7 linked regions of the Homo sapiens genome follow. The protein of the gene in region 6 purifies or fractionates together with the protein of the main gene of each other region. This does not show direct contact. Each region holds a gene or a part of one and is shown on either strand. Other genes may lie near its edges.

The links.
Region 1: the proteins of MAPK9 (region 6) and DUSP8 purify together in Homo sapiens (affinity purification with mass spectrometry; 4 studies listed by BioGRID and IntAct, with this or other methods). This does not show direct contact.
Region 2: the proteins of MAPK9 (region 6) and PRKD1 purify together in Homo sapiens (affinity purification with western blotting, with the first as the bait; one study listed by BioGRID). This does not show direct contact.
Region 3: the proteins of MAPK9 (region 6) and SERPINB5 purify together in Homo sapiens (affinity purification with mass spectrometry; 3 studies listed by BioGRID and IntAct, with this or other methods). This does not show direct contact.
Region 4: the proteins of MAPK9 (region 6) and PKP3 purify together in Homo sapiens (affinity purification with mass spectrometry; 3 studies listed by BioGRID and IntAct, with this or other methods). This does not show direct contact.
Region 5: the proteins of MAPK9 (region 6) and PPM1A fractionate together in Homo sapiens (co-fractionation; one large-scale study listed by BioGRID). This does not show direct contact.
Region 7: the proteins of MAPK9 (region 6) and DUSP14 purify together in Homo sapiens (affinity purification with mass spectrometry; 3 studies listed by BioGRID and IntAct, with this or other methods). This does not show direct contact.

What each region holds. Positions count from the first base shown.
Region 1 is NC_000011.10:1,558,772-1,562,271, reverse strand, and holds part of DUSP8 (dual specificity protein phosphatase 8), read left to right. Parts: intron 1-3,216; coding exon 3,217-3,383; intron 3,384-3,500. UniProt on the Homo sapiens protein: Has phosphatase activity with synthetic phosphatase substrates and negatively regulates mitogen-activated protein kinase activity, presumably by catalysing their dephosphorylation.
Region 2 is NC_000014.9:29,578,914-29,581,847, forward strand, and holds part of PRKD1 (serine/threonine-protein kinase D1), read right to left. Parts: intron 1,178-2,934; exon of another isoform or gene 1,052-1,177; intron 1-1,051.
Region 3 is NC_000018.10:63,483,458-63,486,957, reverse strand, and holds part of SERPINB5 (serpin B5), read right to left. Parts: intron 2,537-3,500; 5' UTR 2,530-2,536; coding exon 2,362-2,529; intron 13-2,361; coding exon 1-12. UniProt on the Homo sapiens protein: Tumor suppressor. It blocks the growth, invasion, and metastatic properties of mammary tumors.
Region 4 is NC_000011.10:392,931-397,008, reverse strand, and holds the start of PKP3 (plakophilin-3), read right to left. Parts: upstream 2,801-4,078; 5' UTR 2,717-2,800; coding exon 2,485-2,716; intron 402-2,484; coding exon 322-401; intron 196-321; coding exon 1-195. UniProt on the Homo sapiens protein: A component of desmosome cell-cell junctions which are required for positive regulation of cellular adhesion. Required for the localization of DSG2, DSP and PKP2 to mature desmosome junctions.
Region 5 is NC_000014.9:60,287,221-60,290,720, reverse strand, and holds part of PPM1A (protein phosphatase 1A), read right to left. Parts: exon of another isoform or gene 2,166-3,500; intron 916-2,165; coding exon 807-915; intron 1-806. UniProt on the Homo sapiens protein: Enzyme with a broad specificity. Negatively regulates TGF-beta signaling through dephosphorylating SMAD2 and SMAD3, resulting in their dissociation from SMAD4, nuclear export of the SMADs and termination of the TGF-beta-mediated signaling.
Region 6 is NC_000005.10:180,285,584-180,289,083, forward strand, and holds part of MAPK9 (mitogen-activated protein kinase 9), read right to left. Parts: intron 1,485-3,500; exon of another isoform or gene 1,392-1,484; intron 1-1,391. UniProt on the Homo sapiens protein: Serine/threonine-protein kinase involved in various processes such as cell proliferation, differentiation, migration, transformation and programmed cell death.
Region 7 is NC_000017.11:37,492,891-37,496,390, reverse strand, and holds part of DUSP14 (dual specificity protein phosphatase 14), read right to left. Parts: intron 1-3,500. UniProt on the Homo sapiens protein: Involved in the inactivation of MAP kinases. Dephosphorylates ERK, JNK and p38 MAP-kinases. Plays a negative role in TCR signaling by dephosphorylating MAP3K7 adapter TAB1 leading to its inactivation.

The sequences.
Region 1 (3,500 bases), on a different chromosome or scaffold from region 6:
ACCTGCAGGCAGATCCCAGGAAAGTCCCAAGCCTGGAAGGGCCTGTCTCCCTCGAGGCCAGAGTGGGACGGTTTGGGGGGCTGGGGCCCTCACCCAGCACTGGTGGGTGGGACAGCATGGGTGTGCAGGTGGGCGTGGATGAGTATGGGCATGGGAGGGGCCGGGCCTGTGCTAGGATTTGCCAGGAGGGCACTCCCAGGGCCTGGTCATGCCACCCTCAGAACTGCCTTTCTGTGCTGACATCTGCCCTGCAAGGTTGAGGCTGTGTCCCCTTTTCTCCAGAAGTGCAGCTGCCAAGGAGTCCCAGGCCCCGTGGTATACAGTGGGCTCATGGCGACACCCAGGCAGGCCCACGGGCTCTGCCCTCAGGCTCCCTCCCACCCTGTGGTGGGCACAGCCCCTGCTCTGGGCTGGCTCTGCGAAGAACCAGGGAGAGTGGGAAAGAATATATTGGGGGGGGCAGGGGTGCTGCCCCTCACCCAGGAGAAGGGATGTTCCAGGATCCCGCGGCACAGGCAACACAGCTCCTTGGTCCATTTGCAGGGACAGTAGAGGCCGGAATGTGAGGACCAAGCCTCTGTCCTCCCCACAGCAGGGCAGGTTTGCGGGAAGCGGGAGAGAAACAGTGGCAGGACAGGCTGTGCTGGGGTCCCAGGACTGCTGTGAAGCCCACCTCCCCCTGCCGCTCCTCTTCCCCCACTCCAGCTGCGCTGCTCACGATGTTGGGGGGCAAGCGGCAAGGGATGAGAGAGGGGCCTGGCCCTTTAAGCAGCGGCCCGCAGTCGGCCTTGGACCCTTGGCCGGGCGACTGCACTGCAAGTGGGTGGGGTGGCGGCCCCCGCCCTGGCGGGGAGTCCAGGGGTCATGGAGGTGGCGGGCAGAAGTGCGTCTGTGACTGTGGCCATAAGCGCTTGCAGGGTCTCCCAGGTGGCATGGGGCAGGCACATGTCCTGGTACACACGCCTTTTTTCAAGTCTGGGATTTCACTGTGAGTAACAGGTGAACTGCAGGCGCTGCCCCAGAAACCCCCGAGTCAGGGAGCAGGGATACTGGGAAGGCGCCTTTGGAGATGCCTGGGGGTAGGGGTGCCTCCCCAGGGCCCAAAGAGTGCTGGGACCTACAAAGGGTCCACTGAACCCCAACACCCCTCACTTATCACTCACCCCCAGAGCCTGGGTGGTTCTGAAATCCCTGGAGCCTCGGTCCCTGCTAGGCCTGGCATCCACAGTGGGGTGTGTAGGGACATCCACACTACCTGCTCCGCCTGGGGAGGTCCTGGGAAGCTTCCTGGGGAATTGCTGACATAGCTGTCGGTTCTCTGCACCTGTCCAGAGACTTTCCTGCCTTTACCTCCTCTGGGAGAGGTGGGAGGGTACTGATGGAATCCCCAGCACCTCCTCCTTTGGCCAGGCCCTGGAGAAAGCAGAGAGTAAGGCACAAAATCCCTGGGAGAGCCACAGGGAGGAGGAGAGGCAGCAGGTGGCAGAAGAGTCTGCAGAGAAGTGGTGCAGCCCTTCCGCCTCCCCGGGGCTGTCCTGCAGCGGGAACATCCAGGGCTACCCCAGCTCAGAACAGTGAGTGGAAGCCAGCTACAGTGCCCATCCCAGCCTCTGCTCAGGGGAACCTGCAAGCTGGGGCGTCGTTGGTGACAAGTCACCTACCTGCTTTCCCCTGTCCAGTCAGCAGGTTCCCACAGAAGAGACTGTTCCTCCAAGGCTGCTGCCTCAACCCACCCAGCCTGGAGCTTCCCCTATCTCCACAGTCCCCCAGCGTCACGCCCTTTTTAGGGACACGGGGAGCTGGCACAGCAGGTGTTCTGGTTGGGGGTTTGCACACACTCCCCTGTCCTCAGGAGTTATCCAGGGTGGCTCTACTCCACCCAGCAGGGGAGAATGGAGAGAGGAGGAGCCCTAGGCACTGGGGGCACGCGGGGCAGGCAGTGGGCACCTGCTACACATGTGGCACCAGCCTCTTCTGCAAACCAGGACAAAAAAGAGCCCTGGGGTTCCCAGGCCCTGAGCTCCCGCCGTCACTCCCCTGCCCCGTCCAATGGGATAGGGCAGGCCTCAGCCCAGCTGCCTCAGGCTCTGCACAAGCAGGAGCCGGCTTGCCATGGGGGCTTATGTTCTGGAAGGTGTCCTCGGGGTGGTGCTGGGCCATGCTGGCTTCACCCTCCCAAGAGCTGGCAGCCACCAGGTGGGTGCTGCCCAGTTTCTGGTCCACATCGGTGGTCGCCCCAGCCAGGTCAGGGACGGCCAGGTCCATTCTCACCATGTGTCTTCGTGCTCATTATCTTCTTGGAACCACATGATGCTGTGTGGCAGGCAGGAGGAGGAAGCTGAGACCAGAGCCATGGTGTGCACTACCCATGGTCACTGAGTCAGACATCCAGGGATTCACGTTCGGGTCCTTCCAGCTGGTGCAGGGCAGGGGACTTCCTCCCACCAGCCTGTGGCCTCGGACTTGGACGTGTGTGGAAGGCAGCAGCACACGCTGGTCACGTGTGCAGCGGGTGCCCACTGCCTGCTCTGCGTGCCCCCAGTGCCCCGGGCTTCTCCACTCTCCGTCCTCCCCTGCTGGGTGGAGTACAGCCATAACCAGACAGCAAATGCCCCGAGGGCTGTGCCAGGGTGATGTCATGCCTGGGGACGGGGAGGGCCTCTCGGAAGCCCTGGCCTCCTGGTCCTGGCACCCAAGCCCAGGCCTGGGGCTCCCAGCCAGCTGGAGGCAGGGAGGCATTGCATCAGTGCAGGGGAGGAGGAAGGCCCAGCCTGGCCCCAGGCCATGGGTATGGGAGATGGCCGGGCTCGTGAGGGCCTCTCCTCTGGGCTGTGTGACACACACCCTCAGCAGGAGACCCCTGTGGCCTCTGAGCCCACCCCTGCCTGGGCCCAGCGCGTGCCGTGATGGCCAGCCACCTCAACGCCACCTTTACGGGCATCCTAGCGGCGTCCTCAGCTGGGTCAGCCCCTAATTAGCATGAGGAGGAATGTGGGCGTAGGTGCAGGCTGTAAATGTGTGGCAGTACCCCCTCCCCCCACCGCGGGCAGAGCAGGTGCTCCGCCAGAGGCTTGCCGGCTGGGCTCAGGCTCGGGTCTGGGCTGGGTGTGACTGATCCTCAGCAGTAGATGGGGTGCCCTAGGCGGACAGGGCACCCTAGGCGGACAGGGAGCCCTAGGTGTTCTCTCAACCCACTTGACGGCCCTCCTCCTACAGGGGGCTTCGCCACCTTCTCCTCCTGCTTCCCCGGCCTCTGCGAGGGCAAGCCTGCTGCCCTGCTACCCATGAGCCTCTCCCAGCCCTGCCTGCCTGTGCCCAGCGTGGGCCTGACCCGCATCCTGCCTCACCTCTACCTGGGCTCGCAGAAGGACGTCCTAAACAAGGTGTGTGTGCAGTGGAGTTCGGGGGGTGGTCAATGGGAAAGGGGCAGGAGCTCCAGAAGCAGCTTGGCAGCGGAGCGGGGGATGAGGGAGGAAAGGAGCTGAAGGCAGTGGATGAGC
Region 2 (2,934 bases), on a different chromosome or scaffold from region 6:
GAAAACACTTTAATTGCTTTCACTTTGCTTTTGCTTTCAAAAATAACCAATGTATTGGAATTATATCAGCCTTCATAGACTTTCTAGAGGAAGACAGGAAAGAAGTCTATTTAACAAGAAATGTTCTCTGAGGGGTTAGAACCACAATCCCTCTGGCCTAGTACTCTGCTTGTGACTGGGGAGTCTGTGAGTGTAATTTATGAAGAAAAAGTAATACTCATCGTTATCTAGTCTGAAAATCATCCTAGTTACCCACAGTATCATGTGATGGAGTTCTCACTCTCCTTTTCTGGACATTATATTTTCAGTATACGTCATTAATAGTTCATTATTTATTAAAGTCATTCCCTCACACTTCTCATTCTTGTAATAACTTCCATGTTTCTCTTTTTGAATTTTAGCATTTTCTTCCCAAAAAGAGCTTAGTGAAATCTGCCAACCTAATAGGAAGCATTTATATTTCAAAGAGTTAATTTTTGCCCTTAACCTACCCTAGGCATTATGTCTGAAAGATGGCTCTTCCTACCAAAAATCTTAATCAAACAGGCAGCTGATAAACGAAAATGAAAATTAACTCCTCATCTTTCCCTATCACCAAGTCTTGAATAGGCAGCTTTGAATCCACTTTTTGGTGTGCATCAACCTGTATGGACCTGAAGATACAGACTGTCACATGAGACCAGAGGAACAAAGACTGCTTCCTTCAATCAGAATCCTTCCCAGTGTCAGGCAAAGAAAAGTGACTTCTACAGTCTTTTGGTAATTGAGAACCATATCTCTATGGAGCTAATGTTACAAGTATTTGCCTGCCCTGAAGGGCTGTAGAGTCAAATATCAAACAATTATTTGGAGAAATGAAATGCAACAACACACATTTAAATGTTGCCTATGCCTATACACTCTTGCCTTACCTAGGATACCTGAAGAAATACAGTACTCAGTACATTTTCATATTCCAAGCATGTGTTCTCAGAGAGCTTTTAAAAGTATAGTTCTGTGAACTGCGTATAGGGCATGTGCTTTAAAATATCCATTCACATGATTTACTCACTGGTGAGTAAAGTGCACCTTCCATTCTTGCTGCTGTGAAGTCACCCGGCAAAAATGGAGGACAAGGAGTGAAGGGAGAGCTTATGTGCTATTGCAAGCTTGCTGCAGCATTACACTGCCCTAGACACTGCAGGAAATAAATTCATGTCATTAATTCACTCATTCTGTTTGGAATTCTGTAATTAGAAAGGCAGGAGTACAGTAACTCAACAAAAGGTCTCGTTTGTGCCCAAATGGGCCCCAACAGTGAACCACACTGCATAATGGGGAGGGAAGTACTATCAGAGGGGAAACTAGAAGTGTCTGAAGGGAATGGAATAAGTAAAAATGAAAAAATTGTTCTGCTGAATGAAGCATACAATCATTAGTCTGACTACGCCACAGTACCCAACCCAAGTGACCTGAGTAAGCACAACAAGGCAATGGCAACTACTTCCAAGAGAAAATGGTTAAGGATATAAGGAGAGAATTAGAGGAGAAACGTGTATGTATAAATAAATGTGTGTGTGTGTGTATACATACATTTTGTGGCTTTTGGAAGCACACAACAGAAATAATGAACTATTAAATGTTAGCACCTATAGCTAAATGTTGGGACCACGGTATTAGTGAGAAAATAGGTCCGTCATTTGTAGTTGAGAATTCTGTTCTGCTTGTTACTTTTCTGGAACTCTTAAAATATCCTTTTTATTAATCAAGTTGTATACAATCCAGCATTAACTATACCATCCAAAATGCGTTTTACTAAACATTTTTGAACACAGTTTAGAGGCTTTTTTCCTTCCAATATTCTCTTTACTGGCCATGTCTACATTGATACAATATTCATGTAATAAAATAGTCTCAGATGTATTATGTATGTATAAATCATTCATTTATCTGTTCATTCACCAAATCTTCCTTAATTCCTGTTGGCAATTACTTATGAAATAAAAAGTTAATGATCAAGCCCTGACCCCGAAAAGCTCACAATCTAGTTGCAAAGGCACATGCATGCCCCTCCCCAGACCACAGATGACATCATGACACAATACACCATTCTGAATCTTTGACCTTTAATTCATATCCTACTCAAAGCAAAAAAAAAAAAGTGTTTTCTTTTTATAACTTACTGTCATTAGTCCTATTTATGTTTTAGATGCAATGGAAAACTTTATTCTATATGACAGTTCTTTACATCTTTGGAGACAGTGATTCATTCCCCTTAATCTCACCTCTATAGTTCCTTCAGATCTTTCAGCCTGCTTAGTCCTCCTGTACACCTCGATTTTAATAGTCACTAGCTCTACTCAATGTCCCTGTTAAAATTCAGTGATCATCACTGACCAACATTTTCCTCACTAACTGCCAATTTGAATTATACGCAAATATATTATTCATATAGTCTAGGATTGAGGGGTTTTCATTCTTTTTTAAAAAATTACATTCATATTCTTATTTAGTCCTTATAACAACCCCCTGAAAGTAGTTATTATTTTAATCTCCATTTTAATAAAAGGAAAACGTGACGCTTCAAAAGGCCATGTAAGTTGGTCAAAGTCAGACAGCTCCTAGGCAATACAGCTGAATTTGAAACCCAGGGGGACTGGAATTCAAAGCCTGTGCTCTTAAACACTATGGCAGACTGCAGCCATATTATGCCATTAACTTATCATTGTAAGTGGATAATTATCTCAAAAATTAACATTTTATTTTTACAGTCATGATAATTACATTCTTAGTTATGTTTCCACCACACTTTTATGTGCTTGAACGCAAGGATGTGTGTGTATGTGTATGTACATCTCTGTGACCATAGCTCTGCCTCATATCGTTAATTCTCCTAGCTTTCTGTCATGCTCACACCGAATAAGCCCATCTGCTATGTATTAATACAATTATTAG
Region 3 (3,500 bases), on a different chromosome or scaffold from region 6:
AAAATGAAGAACCTGTTAAGAGAAAAATCCGTTACCCAAAAAGCATTGCCTCTGAGTAGTGCTGTACTGAAGTGGACACGTGATAATGACCAACGTCCTTGGGCATACAGACTCCTCCTGCCTAGTTCCCGTAAAGTAAGGCTCCTCAACCTCAGCACTATTGACATTCAGGCTGGATGAGTCTTTGTGGGGCTGTCCTGGGCACTGCAGGATGCTTAGCAGCATCGCTGACCTACTAGATGCCAGTGGCATCCTCCTCCTATTTGTGAGAACCCAGAATGTCTCCAGACATTGCCAGATTATCCCAGAGTGGGAAGGGGAGGACAAATTGTCCCCACTGAGAAACACTACCATAAAGGTACTCTTCCAAATCAACCATCGAGAACATTTGTCCTTTCTTCAAAGTGATGCCCTTAATACTCACACAGAAGGATTTCCAAACTTGGAGAACGATGAAGCTGGGTTATAATTTCTATCCAATTCAAAGACCAGAGAGAGAGATTGATACAAGAGACACCATCATCAGGCAGGAATCAGATTTCAGGACAAGTGCCTCTAGCCAGAGTCTGTCTAGTCCCTCTGGGTGCTTTAGCAAATGCCAGGTAAATAGATGTGTCATTTCTGATGGGCAGCTACAATAAATGGTGGGCTGCCCTGGGCTGGCTAGAGTCAGATGGCCCTGCCTGTGAATCCCAGCCTTCACCACCTCTTCTCCAACTCTTCAGAGAATCTTCTCCAACTCTTCAGAGCCTCCTTTCCTCTCCGTAAAATGGGCTGAAAATACCTGCTTTCCTGAGTTGTTAATGAGGATTACTTATATGTAAAACACGTAAAATATTATATGGATTCAAACTGTTAATTATTCTTGTAATAATATTGTAAGCCATTTAAAACCAGGATACTATCATTTGGAGGGCTTAAATCATTGTATTTTTTTCCTTTTTTTTTTTTATTGTTCCAACCAATAGTCCAGCATCTTTTCTGCCTTGCAACACCACAACATGTAATGTCAGCATAAGATGACACCCTCCTCGCTCCATAACTCATAATGGCCATGCTGTGATTCCACAACCCAGATAACGAACGCTGCCAAACCGGCACATTGTCCCAATGAATTACATAGCCTCAGCATTGCAGGGTCAAATGCTGGTCCCAGACAGTGCATAACTCTCATGCCTAAAGATGGATGAAGGAGACCAGAAAATTTAAGAGCCCAGGTAACTACTGCTGGGGAACCAGTTGCATATACTGAGAAGAGCTTGAGGAATTACTGAGGAACAGACCCACTACCCGGAAGTTCTCTTTCGCTGGCCTTTCTCTAATGGTAGATGAGAAATGAGGAATGGGAGATTGGGTAGGGATAGTGGAGTTGCGCAGTTCAGAGATGTGGCTTGATGTCAAGATACATCTCCTCTTCACAGGAGTGAAGCTGCTTCAAGTCCCAAGTGTAAATTCTTCATCCTTACCTAAATAACTCTTATGGGCCATACTTTCTGGACACATATGAATACAAGAAGGTGTTGCCTTTTTAAATGCTTATGAGCTAATAGAAAAGAAATTCTATTGAACCTAGAATGATTAGCATAAGAGTAATAATGAAATAGAATTAGAAGAACATTCACCTATTATGTAAAAGTACATGAGGACTTAAAACGGAACAATCAGGAAAATTGTCTCATTTGAAGGTCTAAGAACTTTACAAAGCTAGATAATCAACCATAGCCAGAAAGAAACCCTAAAACGATACAGATGCTGCTTGATTTATGATGAGGTTACATCTCAATAAAACCATTGTAAATTGAAAATATTATAAGTCAGAATGAAAAAGCTGTGATTACCCAGCAGATCTCCAGGTTCTCCATCACAGCCTGGTGCCTGTCCCAGATGTGAGTTGCATTACCTACAAGCGAGCTTTCACATTTAAAAATAAATTAAGATGCCTGTAATCCCAGCATTTTGGGAGGCCGAGGCAGGCGGATCACCTGAAGTCAGGAGTTCGAGACCAGCCTGGCCACATGGTGAAACCCTGTCTCTACTAAAAATACAAAAATTTGCCTGGCGTTGTGGCACGCGCCTGTCATCCCAGCTACTCGGCAGGCTGAGGCACAACAATCGCTTGAACCTGGAGGCTGCAGTGAGCCAACATCGCACCACTGCACTCCAGCATGGGTGACAGAGTGGGACCCTGTCTCACAAAAAAAAAAAAAAAAAAAAAAGATTAAGAGAGTCCTGGAATGGCACAGTTCTGAATCTTGACCAATTCTGGCCACAAAGTCTACATTCCTTTTTTCCGTAGGCACTGCCTATGGGTTCTAATAACTGTATTCCCACTTAAAGTAGAAACAAGGTTTTGGGGCTTACCTGTCCAATTTCATTTGCAGTGTCACCTTTAGCACCCACTTGAGCAAGTGACAGAGAGGTGGAGAGACAGATTGGAGAGAAGAGGACATTGCCCAGTGGCTCCTTTTCACATAGTTGTTTGAACAGATCAACGGCAAAAGCCGAATTTGCTAGTTGCAGGGCATCCATTGCGGGCCTGGAAGCAAGGACAAGGGAGCAGTTAGTTTCTAAAGCATCTTTAACGTCTTCTCAACTGCATTCTGCCAACACTATAAGAATTCTATTTAAACAAAGTAATTGATCTCAGAAGAAACAAGGAACTTTCTGTAAATTCAAAAGTAAGATCAGTTGTGAAGAAACTTCCAGGCAAATGTCTGAAGGCATGTGAGGTCCTCTGTGTGTCCAGCTCTGCCTAGACTCTGCAGTCTTGGGCCTGCTCAGCCACAGTGGCCATTGTCGGGAGCCCAGTGGTCACATCTCTTCTCCAGCATATGTCAGAAAAGTTGACAGCACTAATCAACATCAGTTGGTTTTATTTATCACATATTGTTTCCATTAGGATTTCAGTTAAACTACAAAGTTAAAACTTTTATAAAACAAAAACAGTCGAATTGCAGCAGTTTTGCATTGTTCAGTTTAATATTTAGTAAGTGTAATGGGTTGAATTGTGTCCCCCAAAAAGATATGTTAAGTCCTAATCCCCATTACCTGTGAATGTGACCTTACGTGGAAACAGGGTATGTCCTATTTCTTAACTAATATATAATTAGTTAAGATGAAGTTACATTGGAGTTAGGTGAGCCCTAATCCGATATGACTGGTGTCCTTAAAGGAATAAGAGGAGAGACACAGAAACAGACATACACAGAGGGAAGATGTGAAGACACAAATGTCTTCACCTGTGTGAAGGGCATGCCGTATGGCAATGGAGGCAGAGATTGGAGGGATGCTTCCACAAGCCAAAGAATGCTAAGAACTGCTGGCAACACCAGAAACCAAGAGAAAGTCATGGAACATTCTCCCCTGGAGCCTTTTGAGACAGCATGACCCTGCCGACATCGTCATTTCAAAGTACTGGCCTCCAAGCCTGTGGGTGAATAAAGCTTCTGTTGCTTTAAGCTGCCTGGTTTGTGGTGCTTTGTGAGAAGTGCTAGAAAACC
Region 4 (4,078 bases), on a different chromosome or scaffold from region 6:
CCCACCGCGCTCATGGAAGGACACGGGCCTGGTGGGCATGGGAGGGGTGGGCTGGGCACCCCCGTACCCAGCGGCCCCAAAGGCGCTGCCCCCGTTGTGGGCTGAACTCAGCCTCCGACTGCAGCTCAGATCCACGGCGGAGCGGGAGGACCAGGAGGCTGGGCTGTAGGCCGGCTTGGCGATGGGCCGGAAGCCCTGTGGGTCGAGAGGGGGCGGTGAGGGCGTGCCTGGGCTCACCTGTGTCCGGGCCCGCTGCAGAGCCTCCCACTCTCCAGACTGCAGAGCTCAGATCGTCCCCCTCGGGCTGGGCCCATCGCTCACCGAGGTCTTGTCCCCACTCAGGCCCTGAGAGCGAGAGCTGAAGCCAGCCTGCAGGGTGTGGTACTGCCCCCTGGATGTGCCTGTGGAGAGGGACGGTGGTAGCCCAGCTCTGCCACACAGCAAAGCACTGGCCTCCTGCCTCCTCTCCACCACTCCATCGCTATTGGCAACCCTAGGAGCAGCCTCCAATCCAGGGCAGGGAGGCCAGGGGGGCACCAGGGCCAGTGCCTCCCCATTCCTGCCATGGCTTGGTCTCCTCACATGTCAGCCCTGGTGGTCCATCTTCCACAGCCCACCCCCCAGCTGTGCCTCCTCTACCCGAGAGGGCAGATACGCTCACCCACTGACCTCCTGGTCGCCAGGAGGAATGTGCCAGGGCCTCTGACATCAGTTCTCCAATCCTTGCCATGGTACAGTGCCCAGCCTCCTCCAGGAAGCCAGCCTGGCCTGCCCCGGCCCACACTGACTCCTTTTGAGCCCCTCCTGTGCCCAAACCTCATCTGTGCCCGGTCACAGGAGAGTGACACTGTCTCCCTGGACCAGTATGCCCTGTTGCAGTGCCCTGTCCCACCCGGCAGAGCCTGAGGCAGGGGCCACACCCACCCCGTCCAGCCACACACACGCCAAGGGCAGCTGCGTCAGCCCGACTCCACAGTGAGTGGACAGACAGGTGGGTGGGCAGAGGGTGGAGGGCGGAGGGTGGATGGAGGGACAGGCAGGAGGAGGATGGGAGGGCTGCTGTGACTGCTGGAAGGATGGACAGAGTGGTGGATGGAGGGGTGGGACAGCCGTCGACGACAGGGTCCCATGGTTGGATGGTGAGTGGGCAGAGGGATGGACTCGTGGATGGGTGCAGAGAGGATGGGCTGATGGTGGGGGCATGAGAAGGCCCACCAGAGCGACCTGGCTGAGGGGCTCAGGGTGGGGTGCAGGGAAAGGGGCCGTGGCCCTCCCACAACTCTGCCCAGAGCTGGATGCTCTGTGGGGGACACCCCCATGGCAGAGGCCCCAGGTTCACCCTGGTTAATGGGGCTTCTGGGCCGGGGCTATTAACCCTCTGACGCTCGTGAGGCCCAGCCCGGAGTGGGGGCACGCCCCAGCCTGGGGACCTCACCCCCACCCCCCAATTATAATCCACCTCCCTCTAATTGGCAGGGCAGCCAGGGTGGTAATTAACCCTTCCCTCACCGTCCTCCACCCCATGACCCCTGGGCACCCGACTTGGTCACCAGCAAGGCTGAGGCCCCTGGAGGGAGGACCCCACAGTCCAGGCCGCCGGGCCGGCCCCTCCGCTGGGCGACCTTCACTTCCCCCTGGCCAGTGGCTGGAGGCCAGTCCTGGGGAAGGCCCCTCTAAACACCAAGTGGACCATGATGAACTGGCATCTGGGTCCCTGGCATTCTGGGAGGTCCATCTTACTGTCTAACCTTAATCCCTGTTGCTGTAGCCTGGGAAGGAGGAAATGGCGTTCCTAGAACCACTGCCTTCAACTCACAGCGTCTGTGCTCCTGTCACTCACACTCACACGCATGCACACACACTCGCGTGAGTGGGGCCAGGATTCCGCCACAGGTGGGTCTGGCTGGCACCGAGGGGTGCTCCTCCACCTGCTGTTCCCACAGAGAAATCTAGGTCACTCCAGCCGGGCCCTCCCCTCTAATTCCTCAGGGAGCCCCTGGTCCAGACAGGCCTGGCTTTCCTCCAGGACTTCCAGCACCCCCACACCTCTCCCCGCTTTCCCGTTCTGCTCATTCCCGTGAGGTATGGGAGGAGCGTGGGTGTCTGGGTGTCCCTGAGACCCTATGTGAGTCTGTGCTACCGGGGCCAGGCGCGTGCGTGTTCCGGGTTTGCCGACCGAGTGGCCTGGCCCGCCTGCCATGTGCCAACCTTCCCTGTCATCCCCCACAGGGATGGCTCCAGGACTCCAGGCACAGGTGGGGCCTGGCCAGGCTCAGTCTTTGGAGGACCCCGGGGTCCCTGCTTGGACAGGGCAGCCCCACCCATGGCTTCTCCCCACGCCCCTGGGGCGGGGTGTGTGACTCAGTGTGAGGCCTGGTGAGTCAGGAGCCGGCCTCACTGCGGCCTCTGCCCTCACACTATCACGTCCGCCCGCAGCCACCTCTCCCCGCCACCGCCATCCCCGCCGCTGTCCCCACCGCCTACCTCTGGCAGTCTCGGCCTCAGGCTCGGGCTCAGCGGCCCCGTTGTGCCGCGGCTGCTGTCCCAGCTGCAAGAGGCGGGCGCGGACCTGCTCCTGGACGCGGGCTGCCCGCAGCCGCTCGGCCTCCGGCCCCTCGGCGCCCCGGCGGTCCAGCTGCAGGTCAGAGGGCAGCGCCAGGGAGCACACGCCGGCCTCAGGCTGCAGGGCCGACAGCAGGAAGTTACCGTCCTGCATGGCGGCAGGTCCACCGGGCCTGGGCCTGGCGGCCGCCTCCAAACCCAACTATCTTCACGTCCTGTCCCTCGAGGCCCTCTCCCTGAAGTCCCCGCCCAGCCAGCCTCACCCAGAGCCGCCTGAAGACAGACGCCTGCCCAGCCCTGAGCGCAGCTGGGGGCGGGGACACCTGGCCAGGTGGGAGGGAGGGGCCGCCGCCTGCTTAAGGTGGAATTTGGGCGGAAGAACAGGCCCTGCATGGCCCCAGGTCCCAGCCTGGCCTCCCGCCTCCTTTTCTCCCATCCCACAACAGGGCCACGGGGACCTGGGTCCTTCTTGTTCTCAGCCTGTAAAGGCCAGACCGGGCCCTTTGTCGTGGGGCTGGGACAGAGGGGCCCTCTGTGTCCTGAGTGTCAGGGAAGGGCAGGGGGCCTGCGGGGGGCCTATGTCCTGCCACCCCCAGCATGAAGGGGAGGGTGCCCCAGTCCCTGGGGGTCTAGGGCCCTAGGTAGCTCCAAGAATCAGCCAGCCTCCATGGTAGCCCAGCCTTCCTGGTGAGGTGGGGATGAGGCCTAGGAAGGGTTGGCAGGAGACACTGTCGGGAGTCAGGGGTCAGTGCCAGGGATCAGGACAAAGGCTGGAGGGACAGAGCTTTAGGGTCCAACGGGACTCCATGGAGGCCCTGGCCCTGGTCCTTGGAATCCAGCGAGCCCCCTCCGCACCAGGAAGCATGTGGATGGACCGGCCCTCCCCCGAAGCCTGCAGACCCTGGAACTCACCCCCAGGACCCCCTCACCCCCTACAGAGGCCTCCAAAACCCTCTCTGGCTTCTGGGACCCTGGCACCACTGCTCCTGCACCCCAGGCCCTGGGGTGGGAGGCCGTTCCCAGCACATGAGTCAGGGTGCAGGGGGGCGGGGCCGCCCCAGGGGGTTGACTCAGAGGGCCTGCACTCCTGTCAGCGCATGTCAGGCTGGGGCAGGAGCGGGTGTGCAGGGAAGAACCAGGGGTCTGGAAGAGCAGAGGCCTGGATGGAGAGGGAGCGAGGGTGGGGGGCCCCTGGTGGGGGTGGGGTAGTGGGGGGCCCCTGGTGGGGGGGCCCTGGACCAAGCAGGGCTTGTGCCCAGAAGGTCTCCTTCTAGCACCACAGCCAGCAAATGGGCTCTGAGGCCCTCTAGCCTCTGGGACAAGCCCCTGGTAGATGGGGGTGGGGATAAGCCTAGGAGGGCTGGGGGTGGGAGCTGAACATCTATGACAACCTCTGGGCTTCTCTCACGAGCTCATCGGACAGCCTCTGCTTCTCCCTGGACCCTGGACCCTGGCTCTGGGCTCTCCTCCAGGGCAGACCCTTGCCCCCTAGCTCCGTCCCTGGAAGATTTTTGCC
Region 5 (3,500 bases), on a different chromosome or scaffold from region 6:
GAACATGGTCACACTTGCAAAACACAGTAGAGAATCGAGAAAATTAGTCAATAATATATCTTCACTGTAAGTACAAGAAGTCTTCACTTGTAGTTTTAGCACATTTACTCTATATCCAAATTCAAGCTAAAGGTATTTGCAAGTTTTATGTTTGTAAGTCAATTATATGGATATTTGAGGTAAAAATGTTTTAACCCTTGGAATTGCTTGAATTTTCCACTTTATTATGTAAAGGTGTAAGCTTAATATTTAACACAAAGTAGTCCAATTCTATGAACTAAAGTGGAAAGGGAAAAGACAAGAAATATATTCTATCTTCTTCCCTGACACCTAAAACCAACTAACCAGCAATCAACAACCAAAAATACTGGGAAAATCAGGCATAGAAACATGGTCCATATGAGGAAGGGGAATTTTCAGGGTGTTAAGTTACTCAGGGATTGACCAAATCAAATTATACTACTACTAACAACGACACTTAGAATTTTGTAAATTTTTATGTAGTGCTATGTAATTTAGTTTAAAAAGTTCTTTCAGTATATTATCTCGTTTATGCTCTATGAGGAAATCAATGCCAACCAAGCTTCCAATAAAGACAACCCTCACTGCAATTAGTTACAATGATACTGATACCTATGTCTAAACAAACTCTAGATATTCTAATACTAAAAAAAAATTGAAATCACAGGTTAAAACACAGATAACTGCATCAGTTCAGAAATTAGGCAAACAAACATTTTATCAATGAATACCTAACATTTTCATACACTGACATAAAGCATAAGAGTGTACAGAATGTAACTTACTTGCTTGCCAATTCACCCCCTGGTGGGAGGCTGGGGATGTTCTCACTCGCTAATGTGCGCATCACATGGACTAAGTCGGGGACGCCTTCCCCCTGCTTCTTTATGATTTCTGGGAATCAGAAGTACTTTTTTTGTAAGTGTTATCCAAATTTAATTGAAAAGAAAACCGAAACAAAGATAACCTAGCTTTTTAAAGATGGCATTTACCACATCTGAGATTTTTCTAATCTGGTATCATTTAAAAAAAAAAAAAATCAGGTTGACCTTTGAAGATTTATGACAAAAAATGCACAAAATGACATATAAGATTAACTTCAAATCAAAATTAAAATGTGAAAAAATATTTCATGTTAAATCAGCATATTATATAATCAAGGATATGTGTGCACAAGTGAGAATACCCTTTCTTAAGATGTCAACTAGTTTCTTCTTACATCACTCCTCTCTTTAGACTGGAAACATGTTTCCTGAACTTTGCCCTATATAATACACTGCGTGGAATTTTAAAAAATAAACAATTTCAAGATTTGAAAATAACAACCCTTAATTATAGGGGAATTTATAGATTATATACTAACTCAATTATTTTTATGTATATATTTATATTTGCAAAATGATACTTAAATAGCATGCACAGATTATGTACTTGAACATCACTGTCTCAGTTTAATTCTTCTCTAAAGTACCTTTAAACAATATACTGTATAGATATATAATACCATTTCCTTCACTGATTACTTCAACAAAGCCTTGAATAGAAAAGGTCTAAATTTCCTTATAAAATGTTTAAAAAGAGAACCATTTGATAAACCATACAACTGCATTTAAAATAATTTTAAAATATCCAGTTATTAAAAGGGCACAGCAATATGATCTGCAGTGTTGTCATGCAGATGCATACTATTATTCACATCACAAAATATAAAAAATTATGAACAAAGAACCTTACAAAGAACTCTACAACTATTCCTCTAAGTATAAAAAGTCTTCACTTGCAGTTTTAGCACACATACTCCACATGCAAATTCAAGTCAAAAGTATTTGTAAGTTATATGGTCAAGTTTTGTTCAGTTTGTTTTTCAATGTTTATGGTAAGAAATGGTATTTTATTTGTCATTAGTGGGGCAAGAAATCATCATTCTGCTTCTCAATTTGTAAATACCTTTGAAAATAACAATGTGTATAAAGATTCGTCCTTTGATCAGGCCTCAAAATTTTTAAAGACATGGCTACCCATAATATTTCTTTAAATGGTTCAAACTGTCCTTTTAGAATAAAGGCCAAATTTTTACCATCTATTATTTTTTGCCTTAAAAAAAAAAACAGTCTTAAATCTGAACAAAAAGCAAGGATCTCAGATTTGGTTTGCCAAGTTCCTTTATTGTGTAATCTTTAACATCTAGTATATTTGTTCTACATGGTTCTAATGCTGGAAATCTGCTGTACAAAAATAAAGGGATTTGATGTTTACCTAAACTGCACAATTTCACAATCTAAAACTAATACACTTAACATACAGTCTCCGCTAAGCCAATACAATTATTTGGATAGATAACTAGATACAATAGAAATAAACACTGATGATAAATTGAATCAATAGTTTCAGGTCTAAAAAACATTACCTTGAATCATCTATATTTGATGTATCTTACATCTCTTTTGTTAAAATATAAATTAGGATATTTTAACTGTGAAGAAAATTACAGGAAAACAAATTCTTGTAAAAAAATAATGTAAAGCTTTAAAAACAGTTAATATCTCCTGTTCCACGTGGGACAACGCATTTAAACTACCTGACCATTCATACTATACTAGCCTTGCTTCTGTCTGCTTTCAAAAAAGAAAAATAAATGAATTTTAAGAAATATTCCTTTAATTTCTGTTGACCTATACGTTTTACTTAGAATTGTAAAAAGACTGAACGCTTTTTCTAAAGAATATTTATATATAGAAGATCCATGTTTCACATACATATACACAAACACATTCTGCTCCTTTCCACTCCCCTCCACCAAGTTTCAGGGATTCTATCAGTCATCTCCAAATTAGCAACTTTAAAGCTAAGGTAGTCAGTAGCAAAGATTTTGAAAATATATACACAAAAGTATAATTTTAAATTGGCTTAGAAGGACCACAAAATTAATAGTAGTATAAATTATGAGCTGAATCTTTTCACACCCCCAGAGAGTCAAGTATTTAGAAGGGAACAAATAAGAGAAAAGGAGAGCTGGAAGGCCTTTGTCCTTTTCTATGGTGTGGACAGAGAAGCCAAAAATGTTCCAAGCAAATAAAATGAGGTTTAGTAGGTCACAGCAATCTAGTGAAGGCATGTATTTAAAGAAAGAAGAGAGAGAGAAAAGAAAAAGGCATTCAGGTGCCTGCTTTGGAAGCTGAAGGCAGTATTTTTCACTGAGGACACACAACTTTTACAATACAAACAGTTACATTCTATGTTTTAAAATAGCAGCAATTTTAATGTAATATTTATTCTCTAGTTGCAGTCTCATCAAATCTGAGTAAAAAATACCATATTTAATTTATGACAATCTCCAATTGAATGGTACAAGTATAATAACACTTTAACATATCAAAAATATTGAGTATCAATGTAAACTCTGTCCAGGTGGCAACTCTTGCTTGATAATAAGAAATATAAAACTTATTATTGTAACAAAATAACGTAAAGTGAATATT
Region 6 (3,500 bases):
ACCCTCTGTCTCAATGCTTGCTGCCGACATTTTTTTCATTAAATTGTTCTGTTTTCCAGCTGGGCAAGATGGCTCACACTTGTAATCCCAGCACTGTGGGAGGCCGAAGGTGGGAGGATCACTTAAGCCCAAGAGTTCCAGACCAGCCTGGGCAACATGGTGAGGCTTCAACTCTATATTAAACAATAATAATAATAATAATAGTAAAAATCTGGCCGGGTGCGGTGGCTCACACCTGTAATCCCAGCACTTTGGGAGGCTGTGGCGTGTGGATCACGAGGTCAGGAGACGGAGACCATCCTGGCTAACATGGTGAAACTCCGTCTCTACTAAAAAAATACAAAAAATTAGCCGGGTGTGGTGGCGGGCGCCTGTAGTCCCAGCTACTAGGGAGGCTGAGGCAGGAGAATGGCGTGAACCTGGGAGGCGGAGCTTGCAGTGAGCCAAGATCACACCATTGCACTCCAGCCTGGGCGACAGAGCGAGACTCCGTCTCAAAAAAAAAAAAATAGTAAAAATTTAAAAAGTTCTATTTTCCTACTGTAATTCTTTATTCTTTCTTTTCTTTTTTTTTTTTTTTGAGACGGAGTCTCGCTCTGTCGCCCAGGCTGGAGTGCAGTGGCATGATCTCGGCTCACTGCAAGCTCCGCCTCCCAGGTTCACGCCATTCTCCTGCCTCAGCCTCCCAAGTAGCTGGGACTACAGGCGCCCGCCAGCACACCCAGCTAATTTTTGTATTTTTAGTAGAGATGGGGTTTCACTGTGTTAGCCAGGATGGTCTCGATCTCCTGACCTTATGATCCGCCCGCCTCAGCCTCCCAAAGTGCTGGGATTACAGGCGTGAGCCACCGCGCCTGGCCTCCTACTGTAATTCTTATGAAGAATAGCTTGGTATAACAACGTAATCTTTCTTTGATAATCAAGAACCTTGCAGCTCTCAGGGCCATCCTCTGTAGTTCTTAAGCCACAGTATATACCACAATACAGAACAACTAGCATTTGGTTATCACTTCACCCACTGTTGGATCCATAGGACCCTGCAAGGATCTCCGTCACCAGCCCCACTTCCAGGCACCCAGGCCTGCCTATTTCCCTCTCAATCCCCCACTCCCAGGGCCCTGGGTAAGGGCTTCTCGTGGCTCCTTGGACCAGCGACAGCAGAAGCATTCTCCCAGCCACCATTTCTGTGACTTCCGAACCACTGCACACATGCCACTTTAGAAAGAGAAATCACTCCACGTGAGAATATGTACACAAATGTTCACAGCAGCTTTATTTTTAATAGTGCCAAACTAGAAACAACCCAAACCTGTCCTTCAATGGGTAAATGGTTAAACTAACTGCTGTATACCCATACCATGGAATACCACTCAGCAACTGCTGAAACATACCACAACTTGGGTGGATCTCAGGGGCAGGATAGTCAACGAAAAAAGCCAATCTCAAAAAGTCACATCCTGTATAACTCCATGCATATAACATTCCTGAAAAGACAAAAGTATAGAGATGCAGACTAGATTAGTACTTGCCAGCAGTTATGAATGGTGGGGAAAAGGGGCTGCTGTGGCTGTAAGGGGGTGGGACAAGGAGATATCTGGGATGATGACATAGTTTTGAATCTTGATTGTGGTAGTGGTTATAGGAATTTTCACACGATAAAAAATGACAATGAACTCTATACACCTTGCTCCGATGCCCAATGTCCTGGTTTAGACATTTTACTACAGTTGTGTAAATATGTAACCGTGGGAGAAAGCTGGGGGAAGGGTACTGGGACCTCTCTGTGCCATTTGTGCAACTTCCTGTGAATCTATAATTATTTCAAAATATGGAAAGAAAAAAGAGAGATTTGTTGAAAGTGTGCAGTGATCACACCATTCTCCCATTTGAACTCCTTCAACAGTGACTGACTGCCTGGAGAATAAGATTCAGTTCCCTAGCACAGCACAGGAGATGGCAGTCCTCTGGCCCAATCTTAGGCAACATCAAACCACCTGGGATCAGCGGACACACCCAGCTACTGCACACCTTCAGGCCTCTGCCTAAGCTGTTCCATCTGCTTGAAATGACTTCCCTCCCCTTTTTGACCTGCTGGTCAACATTCACCCTCCTTCAAAAATCTAGTTCAAGCACTTGCTTCTCTTACATGTTTCCTCCTCCAGCCTTTCCCTTCAAACCATGCTGGGCATGCCCCCATTTTTGCCACCCTCCCAGTATTCGCTTTAGATTGCATTCCGAGTCTACTTACACTTCTACTCTGTAAGGGCAGAAAATGTGTCTGATTTATTTCTCAATCCTCTACTGATTACACAGTGGGTGCCCAAAAAATGTTTGTTAAAGACAAAGCTAAATGGGAGAAAAAATGCGGTAGGGCAGCTGGGAGCAGTGGTTAAGATCGGGACTTTGACTTCAGACTCCCAGTGGGTCTGCTATTTATCTGGGTGATGTGCAGCAAGCGATTGCACTCATCTGCAACACGGACGAGCAGAGAGCCTCAGGGTACCTCTAGATAAGAAGTGCACAGCCCACTTAGGAAGGCATCTTGATGCAGGAATGCACCCTAAATCTGACGAAGCCTCGTCTAGATCCAATTACTAACTTACAGAGATTACAGAGAAACACATTCAATTACACTGCAGAGATGCAATCAATCAAATACCAACTATGGAAATGCTAAGGAACAACTCGATTGCTTCAACAAATAAACTACCAAGAAAACAAAGAAATAGGAGGGGGATCTATGGATTAAGAGAAACTTAAAAGACGTATCATCCAATCAACAACGTATGGCCTTCTCTTGCTCTACTTTCAAACTATTAAGGAAACCTAAAATTCATGGGGCAGCTGGAAATTTGAATATTGACTAGTTATTTGATGATATTAAGCAATTATTACTTTTTCAACTTTAAAAGAGTCAGTACCTTTAGAGACCTACCGAAGTGTGAAGTATAACTACTGTACACCTCCTGAGCACCCTGAGGTTGTGCCCGTATGTTTTACAGATGAGTGCAATCGCTTCTGCACATCACCCAGATAAGCAGCAGACCCACTGGGAGTCTGACTCAAAGTCCTGATCTTACCCACTGCTCCGAGCTACCCTACCACATTTATTCTCCCATTTAGCTTTGTCTTTACCAAACATTTACTGGGCACCCACTGTGTAATTAGTATCCCAAAAAATAATGAATGAAATGACATGATATTTAGGATTTGCTTGAAAATAATTATGGGTGGTAAGGGTGCAAGTGGATACCATTAGAGATGAAACAAGATTGGTCAGGAGTTAATAACTGTTAAAGCAGGACACTATTCTGTTTATTTTGTATATGTTTGAAAGTTCCCATAATAAAAGTTAAAATAAAAAGAATGATGTTGAAACTGGTTCATACAATCAAGTACAAAGTATCAGGAATTAATTATTCTGAAGGAAAATTATGTAAAAATGGCACCTTCCTAACCAAGTGTGAGGTGTAACTACTGTATGTATGTAGACCAAAAAT
Region 7 (3,500 bases), on a different chromosome or scaffold from region 6:
TCAAGTGATCCACCTGCCTCAGCCTCCCAAAGTGCTGGGATTATAGGCGTGAGCCACTGTGCCCAGCATAATTTTCTATATGATTTCAATTTCTAAAAGTAAAAAATATTTTTAATAGAAGAAAATTAACAACACATAGTTGTCGGTCCAAGCCCCCTCTCCACTTCTGGCCTGAGCCTGCCAGTGCTCTTTATATAGGAGCCAGGATAACACCAAAGATTTATAATGATGACATGAAGTGTGTCTTCATTATAAATGTTTTGTGTTTTATAATGAAACACAAAGATTTAAAAGATTTAGTTAAATCTAAGATTTAGATTTTAGCTAAATTGGCAAAATTCTTCATTATAAATCTCCAAATTTGTATGTAATTTGTATGTTGACAGTACTTCCAGATTTTATTTTTACAAGTGCTTCCTTAAAACTTAAAGCAGGCTGGGCGCGGTGGCTCATGCCTGTAATCCCAGCACTTTGGGGGTCCGAGGCAGGTGGATCACGAGGTCATGAGATCGAGACCAGCCTGACCAACATGGTGAAACCCTGTCTCTACTAAAAATAGAAAAATTAGCTGGGCGTGGTGGCATGCGCCTGTAATCCCAGCTACTCGGGAGGCTGAGGCAGGAGAATTGCTTGAACCTGGGAAGCGGAGGTTGCAGTGAGCCGAGATCGCGCCACTGCACTCCAGCCTGGTGATGGAGCAAGACTCCGTCTCAAAAAAAAAACAAAAAAACAAAAAAAACAAAACTTAAAGCAAGTTCACCTACTGGTCACTTTCCCAGGCAGGGAAGGCTGGTGCTTTGAAGGCGCTCTCTGCCACATAATGTTTACTAGTCAACAGAAGCAGCATGCTCTAGTTAGGGAGTTTTCTCATATGTACCCACACACTCAAAGACATAGGAGTCAAAACAAACAAACAAACAAACAAAAAAACTTGCCCTAGGTCATTGATGCTGAAACTGTTCTGGGACAAAGACAGAAGTAAACCCAGCAGTTGCATATGAACTTCAAAAGAACCTTCTCGTCCACTGAGGTTTCAACATGGCATGGGGTGTGAAAAGCTGACCCAACCGGACCTCTGGTTGCTCTAGGTTGGTGCAAGAACAGAATGGGACGTGCCCAGGTGAGCTGGGTGGGCTGCACATGAAAGGGCATGGCTGTGATCTCAGCCCTAGGCCTCCTCCCTCGCCCAGGCTGAGGCTGCCCCTGCCCTGCAACAGGTGGAAAATGGAGCTCCTTTGTGAAAGCTGCCCGCTGGAAGGCCGAAGGGGTGACAAAGAACACGACAGGGCTCCTCCCCCATCACTCAGATCAACAGGTTCTCATACTAACGACTTCTTACTCCTCCTCCTTTGGGTGTCTTTTCCTGAAAACTTCTAATTTATCCGCATGTGGTTTCTAAAATTATCATTATTTTAGAGAATCTGAAAAAAAATCTTTACTATAATGAGCAAAAAAGTCTTTGTGACTTATGTAAATAAAGACTGAAAATAGAGTGATTTAGCTATTTTCCAAGATGCTTTAGAGAAGAAATAAAAAGGATCTACAAATCTCAGTCTTTGTGCTAGTGTTCTTCCATCATCCCTCCAGCTAAAAAGGATTCCCCTGAGGTATTTTGTAAACCTACAGAATTGCGTAACATTCTGCTCTAAGGGCAGAAACACAGCACATAATACTAGGCACATGGTAAGTACTCAATGAACACCTGAATTTAACGGCTGCCCTCAGGTGAACTGCCCACCTCTCCCCACACCCTCCCTCCTGCTCCTTCTCTTTCTCACATTCTCTCACTCTCTCTCACACACACACTTCAAATCCAGCTGGCAAAACTAAACACGGGCAATCAAAGTGAGCCTGGTAACTGTCTGTTCACAAAGCAGGAATTCAAGCTGGATGTGGCACATGCTGCAGTCCCAGCTTTTAGGAGGCTGAGGTGGGAGGATCCCTTGAGCCCAGCAGTTCAAGGCCAGCCTGAGCCACACTGCTAGACTCCATCTCTTACAAAGAAAATGAACAAAAACGACAAAAACTCTGCTCTAAGCTACTTCTACTTTCTCAGGCAAAGGAAAATTTGGAGAAAAATACATTTAAAAGATTTAAAGGCTGGGTGCGGTGGCTCACGCCTGTAATCCCAGCATTTTGGGAGGCCGAGGCGGGCGGATCACGAGGTCAGGAGATTAAGACCATTCTGACTAACATGGTGAAACCCCGTCTCTACTAAAAATACAAAAAATTAGCCGGGCATGGTGACGGGCACCTGTGGTCCCAGCTACTAGGGAGGCTGAGGCAGGAGAATGGCATGAACCTGGGAGGCGGAGCTTGCAGTGAGCCGAGATCGCGCCACTGCACTCCAGCCTGGGCGACAGAGTGAGACTCTGTCTCAAAAAAAAAAAAAAAAAGTTTAAAAGAGTCATTGATTCCTGTAGCACAGAGTCTGTGGTTACTTTGGAATTGCCAAGAAGTATGAGTTAGGGTCTGTGCACAGTGCCTCTTAAGGAGTCTCATCCTCAGAGGGTACTTTAACAAGGATAGGCCTGGGTTCCTGCACACTACACTGTCCTACACATTTAGGGCTGGGCACAATGGAAGCATTCACCAGAGGCAGGATTCATTCAAGAGCCTTAAAAAACATCTAGGTACTAGCCACTTATTTTTAGTACTTCATTTTGCATATTTAAAATTTCCTGTAACTACTCATCTGTTCCAAAAAAAAAAAAAAAAGATTGATGAAAGGATTCCATTAGATATTTGTCAACCAAACACAGTGGGAAAACCATTTCTGGTATTTGGGTGGTTAGTCCAAACCATATAACTAAATAAAAATACGCTAGCACATGACAGGCCAGGGATCGGACTACCCAGGGACCTTTATTCATTCATTCAGAAAATATTCAAGCATAATTGTGGTTAAACAGCAAATACAGTGACTTACAAACTCAAGGCTGACACCACTGAAGGAATGTAAATTGGTACAACCACTTTGGAAACCAGGTATCAACTAGTAAAGCTGAAGGTATGCACACCTGACTCAGGGCTGTTCATAATTGCCCCAGACCAGAAACAACCCAGATGTCCATCAACAGTGGAAAGGTAATTTGTGGTATGTTCATAAGACAAAAATGTACTAACTGGGCTGGGTGTGGTGGCTCACACCTGTAATCCCAGCACTTTGGGAGGCCCAGGCAGGAGGATCCCTTGAGCCCAGGAGTTCAAGACCAGCCTGGGCAATATAGTGAGACCTTGTCTCTAAAAAAATTAAAACACAAAAACTACAGGCATAGGCAACGATATGGATAAATCTTTTAAAATAGCATGCTGCAGAAATTTAAAAAATTATATATGTGCGTGTGTATATACATACATACACACACACATACATACACATACACACACACACACACGATGCCGGCCAGAAGGAAGGATTCACAAGAGTATCTACTTTTAGTTTGCACTGAGGTTAAAAACAAGCAAAATAAAACTATGTCAATTAGGGATTTATATTT